Linked DNA regions of Homo sapiens: region 1 is linked to region 2. The links come from fine-mapping of genetic effects on gene expression. A gene starts in region 2. The other region holds a variant in brackets. All regions are shown on one strand. Distances are between the middles of the regions.

Region 1 (2,921 bases), 61 kb after region 2:
GCCTCCAGAGTCAAGTCTCACCTCCTACCTCAGGGGCAGGCACTGCTCTGAGCATTTTTAATGTATTCTCTCTCTCTCTAATAGCTTTACAGGATATAATTCATATACCATACATTCAGCCTTTTAATTATACACTTCAGTGTTTAGTATATTTGAGGAGTTGTGTGATCCTCACTACAACTCTGTGAAGCATCGTTTTCATTCCCATTTCGCTAACGAGGACCTTGAGACTCAGAGGAACTCAGTACTTGCCCGAGGTCAGACAGCAGTAGGTGGAGGAGTCAGGTAGCCGTGGAGCCCATCCATGCTTTTAAATCATTGCTCTACATTGCCTGCCCTGGAGACCCCTGGGATCCGTGGCTCTTTAGAGTCAAGGGTAACAGGCATCTTCATCCAATCTTGAGCAGGGCCTGCAGCTTCTCTCATGGTCTGCGTTGATTTTGTCCCTGCAGGTTTTCCGCTGCCCCATGAGTTTCTTTGACACCATCCCAATAGGCCGGCTTTTGAACTGCTTCGCAGGGGACTTGGAACAGCTGGACCAGCTCTTGCCCATCTTTTCAGAGCAGTTCCTGGTCCTGTCCTTAATGGTGATCGCCGTCCTGTTGATTGTCAGTGTGCTGTCTCCATATATCCTGTTAATGGGAGCCATAATCATGGTTATTTGCTTCATTTATTATATGTGAGTAGGTTCTTTTTGCTTGTGACTTGGGGAGCAAGGCTGGGACCAACCCAGACTAGATGGTCCCAGAGGTGGACGGTCCAGGTCCCTTACCTCCACTGTCCATGCAGGATGTTCAAGAAGGCCATCGGTGTGTTCAAGAGACTGGAGAACTATAGCCGGTCTCCTTTATTCTCCCACATCCTCAATTCTCTGCAAGGCCTGAGCTCCATCCATGTCTATGGAAAAACTGAAGACTTCATCAGCCAGTGAGTCCTTCTGCTGCCATTTGAGAATGATGGAACCACAGGGGTGGTGGGGAGCAGGGAAAGAATGGAGCGTCTGGGAGTGGCATCATCTTCAAAAGCATCAGAGAGCACATTGTTCGATGGACGTATTTCTCTGAGCCTCCAGAACCTGCTGAACCATTCTTTCATTTATAAGAATGAAAAATGTAAATGATAGGAAAAATGTTTGTAAACTTTAAAGACCTTGTATATATTGTGTATATATATATGGACATATGTATACATACATTTAATGATAAGGTGCATTACTGTGCAAACACATCTTGCATTATGTTATTTCTTTCACTTCCAAACAAATATCTATCTTTAACAAAATAATGAG[G/T]AACAATAGCTTTCTAAATAATAGAACTTCCTTCACTACTCATGCCATAGATTTGCCCCCTAAATGTTGAAACAAACAAGCAAACAAGTCCTGTGATTGTTGTTGAGGTTTAATGGTGTAACACGAACTTATCTGTTTGTAGAGAATAATCAAGCACGGTCTTCACCTACAAGAAGTTCATAGTCTGGTGGAAAAAGGGAGAAACAGGCACATGTTTTTGTAATTATACGTGATTGAAGAAGGTAGATAGCATAAGAGAGGGGCAGATAAACTGCTTGGGAATTCAGAGGGGAAGGAGGTGGCCTGGGGGAATCAGATAAGGCTTTCGGGAGGAGGTGGCATCTGAGCTGGCCTTGAAGCCTGGGTAAGACTTGGGCACACATTTGGGAGACGGTATGTGCTCAGTTAGCTGGAATATTGGATTAATTGTGGCACCTGCTCTCTCAGTGGCATTATAGACCACTCAAGGTCTGTGCAGACTCTAGGACTGAGGGGATCCTGGAGCGGTGCATTCATTCAGCCCACACTGAGAACCCTGCCCCAAGGTATATACTAAGATAAGCAGATGAAGAGAGTCTGGAGGGATTGGAGCTGTTGTTGGGGAAGGTGTCAGAGAAAAGGACCCTGAGATGAAGTGTGGGTTGAGCTATGGAAATATGTGGGTAGGAGCTCTCCAGGCAGAGGGGACAGTAAATGCAAAGACCATGAGATGGGGGAAGTAGGTTTGAAGGATAGCAAGGTGGCTTGAGCACAGGGGCCACAGAGTGACCAGGGTCTGTTGTGTTTAATCTGGGAAGGCCTCAAGGTGGAGGTGACTCAATCAGTATAGAAAGGTAAGGTGGACAGAATTTGGAATGTCTTATGCAAAGGTTCAGAGGGTATGGACAGAGTGAGTCAGAAGGGCCACTCTGCTGGGGTGATAGCCCACTCAGATGGTAAGATGGTTTTAGTTGATGAGTAAATGAATATTTAATTTCAATAATCAAAGGTTTATTTGAATGTACTTTAGAAAAAATGCAACTAACATATCAAACCCATTATTTATATAATTTAAGGTTGTGATTAAAGTTTCTTTTAATATACATTCTCAAACAAAGCAAGTAAAATAATAATACTAATCAAATAACAGTACAGGTTGTGATTGACATGGAAAACTGTGATGGTGGTATGTGAAAATTGGAAATTGGTAGGTTTCTTGGTTGGAAGTGACAGAAAAAACTAATGCAAACTAGCTTAAAAATATGACTTAAATATGGCAAAATACTAACAATTGCTAAATTAGGTAGAGGGTATACAGATGTTCACGGAATAAACTTTTTAATTTCTTGGTACTTTAAAAAATTTTCATTAGAGGGTATACAGATGTTCATTAAATCAAGCTTTTAATCTCTTGGTACTTATAAAAATTTTCATAGCAAAAGGCTGGGGAGGAGGACTTGCTTAAAGTGAGGCTTAATCCAGAGACTCAGCTAATGTTCCCCGGGTGTCTCGGTTTTACTGCTCTGCCTTCCATGGTGTTATTTTACCTTTAAGCTCCCAGAGACCCTCTGGTGGCTCCAGGCTCCCCTCCTAGTAGCAGAATGGTAGTTTCAGATATCCCATCATCCCACTGAAAGGAATCACTCCCACACTC
Region 2 (2,921 bases):
TTTTTTTTTTTCCTATAGACAGAATCTTGCTCTGTCACCCAGGCTGGAGTGCAGTGGTACGATTATAGCTCACTGCAGCTTCGATCACCTGGGCTCAAGTAATCCTCCGCCTCAGCATCATGAGTAGATGGGAGTACAGGCACGTGCCACCAGGCCCAGCCACTTTTAAAAAATTTTTTTACTCAAAGCCCTTAATTTTTCTTGGAATCTTTAATCTTCCAAGACCTTCCTGCAATGATGTTAGTTCAGTTCAGCCCGTGTTGGAATAATATGGGGCCTCCCCACTCCTCTCTTTAATCCCCTTTTGTGAAAATCTACATTTAAAACTACCCATTTGGATATAGGTTTAGAATGCTTTGCAGTTTCAAAAGGCTTTCATATGTATACTTCATTTTATACCTCCCTTCACCCCATGAAGAAGGTAGTATTATTTCCTTATTACAAGTGAGTAAATGAGATTCAAAAAGGTAGAACATGGCATGGTGGCTCACACCTATAATCCCAGCACTTTGGGAGGCCGAGGCAAGTGGATCACTTGGGCTCAGGAGTTCGAAACCAGTTTGCGCAACATGGCAAAACCCCGTCTCCACCAAAAAAAAAAAAAAAAAATAGCTAGGCATTGTGGCACATGCCTGTAATCCCAGACACTCAGGAGGCTGAGGTGAGAGGATCACTTGAACCTGGGAGGCAAAGGTTGCAGTGAGCTGAGATGGCACCACTGCACCAGCATGGGTGACAGAGTGAGACCCTGTCTCAAAAAAATTAAAGTAGAACAACTTAGGTGTACATGGTTACAAGAAAATGTAATAGAAATAAATTTAAGAAATAAATTTAAATTTAAAATTTAAAGGATAAATTTAAATTTAATAAATTGAGTTCCTTAATTATATTTTAAGACAAATTTTACTTTTTTCTCATTACAATGGACAATAGGTACCACTTCTACCTACAAGAATTATAAACATAGGCCAGGCATGGTGGCTCACGCCTGTAATCCTAACACTTTGGGAGACAGAGGCAGGAGGATCACTTGAGCTCACAAGTTTGACACCAGCCTGGTGAGGGAGACTGAGAAGTCGGCACTATGAGGAAATGAAGCCATGTACCCTGAAAAGTGTAAATTTGGAAGAAAGCTGGATGACCATCTTGAAATGCTTGAAAGGATATTGTACAGGTAGTACTAAATTATGACCCCTTTTCACTAAGAAAACAATGGGTCACTCAGGAAGCACTAAAAATGCAGTTCTACTAAGCAGAAAAATGCAGGGTGCCCTGGGTCAGCATGCCAGCCAAGTTCTATACTGCAGGACAAGTCCAAAGCTCCTCCTTTAAAAAGGCTCCTGCAGGCAACATGCCTGCACACTAACGTGCAGAAAGGGACTGTACTACTCAAAACCACCAAGGAAGTGGCAGAGGTAAGTCAACATCTAATCCTGCCACTCTGTGTGGCAAAGAACGCTGGGAGCAAATTACTTCTGCTGCTCTTTGAAGGCTGTGCCAGCGTCACCTGGATAGCGCAAAGGAAACAAGAGAAAGGAACAGAGCCCCTCTTCTGGCCTCTGGGCTACCATACAGAAAAGCAGGTAACTGGGGAAGGACAGACTTGTGCGTGGAAACAGGCTAATGCTATGGATTACTCAGTATTGGTATTGTTAAAGCCTTTTTTTTTTTTTTTTTTTAAGTAGAGTGTTTTAAAGGCCCTATTAGAGAAAAAAAGACATTGGAAACTATTACCAAGGAATATGGTACAATCTTTCCACATAGGCTTTTTAAGTAGCAAACAATACTTCTAGGATAACTAGATGGTCTGATGAGTTCTTATAATGCCGGACTTCTATGAAGACTTTTCAATATATGTTTTCTAATTTAAATGATTAAATTTTAACATTGCTACTCAGTTAAAGGCAATAATATGAACATCAAGGATCAGATCACACAGTACCTGATTATTAGTGATTACTTTCAAGCAGGAGAATTGAGGATTGTTGCTTTGGAGGGATTTTCATAAAATAAATTAAAAACCTGAAGGGTATGGTGGCGCTTGCCTATAGTCCCAGCTACTCCAGAGGCCAAAGCAGGGGATAGCTTGAGTCCAGGAGTTTGAGACCAGCCTAAGCAACATAGTGAGACCCCATTTCTACAAAAAATTTAAAAATTAGCTGGGTGTAGTGGTGCACGCCTATAGTCCCAGCCACTCCAGAAGCTGAGGCAGGACGATCACTTGAGCCCAGGAGTTCAATCAAGGTTGCGGTGGGCTACGATCACGCCACTGCACTTCAGCGGAGGAGACAGAATGAGACTCTGTCTCAAAAAATACACAAATGAATAAATAATAAAAACCTTCCAAAATCTTGCCAGAATAATACCAACAAATAGTGAAACTTAAAATGTGACTAAATCGACTTTTCAAGTTCACAATGTGCCCATGGCTAATCAATACATATGCACAGTAGAAAGAAAATGAAGTCTAATAATGACCACTCTTGCCTAGACAGGGAACTAAGTGTGCCTGGGCACAGAAGGCAAAATAATTTGGGAAAAGTAAGCAGAAGGAGCAGAGTCGTATGTTGGGAAACTAGAATCCAATACAATTTATCAAAGAGTACTGAAACTTGGAATGTGACCAATTCCACTCAGGCAATAACCAAAGCAGGTCAGATGGGAGCCAAAATATTTTCCATGCTTGAGAAAATCAAGGCTTTTACAATATAAATGAATACTGGGCTGCTGTGGAAGGTTTGTTGGTCTTTGTTGCTTTGTTTTGCTTTCTTTTAACGGGGGTGGGGGGAGGTACCAGTCTCCTTTGAGAATCTGAAGAAAGCAAAGGATTCTCCTAAAAAAATGTACATAGTCACAAGATTTTGAGGAAAAATAAGACATGTCCAACCCTCCGGAAATCCATTCAGAGTCAGGAACCCCTA

Evidence for each region. PIP is the estimated chance that this variant, and not a neighbour inherited with it, causes the effect. A credible set is the group of variants that fine-mapping cannot tell apart.
Region 1: its variant is the best candidate, but not a certain one, in a credible set for the expression of ABCC11 in nasal epithelium (TOPMed, PIP 0.72).

What each region holds. Positions count from the first base shown.
Region 1 is chr16:48,184,959-48,187,879 of GRCh38, reverse strand. It overlaps ABCC11 (ATP binding cassette subfamily C member 11), which reads left to right. Exons shown (of 30, transcript NM_001370497.1): 21 at 453-679; 22 at 790-927. Among named protein-coding and RNA genes, the nearest start is that of ABCC12, 30 kb to the right of the region's middle. The variant G/T (reference allele first, on the strand shown) is at 1,289.
Region 2 is chr16:48,245,976-48,248,896 of GRCh38, reverse strand. It overlaps ABCC11 (ATP binding cassette subfamily C member 11), which reads left to right and starts at 1,358. Exons shown (of 30, transcript NM_001370497.1): 1 at 1,358-1,583. The region is part of intron 1 of LONP2 (lon peptidase 2, peroxisomal); the gene reads right to left.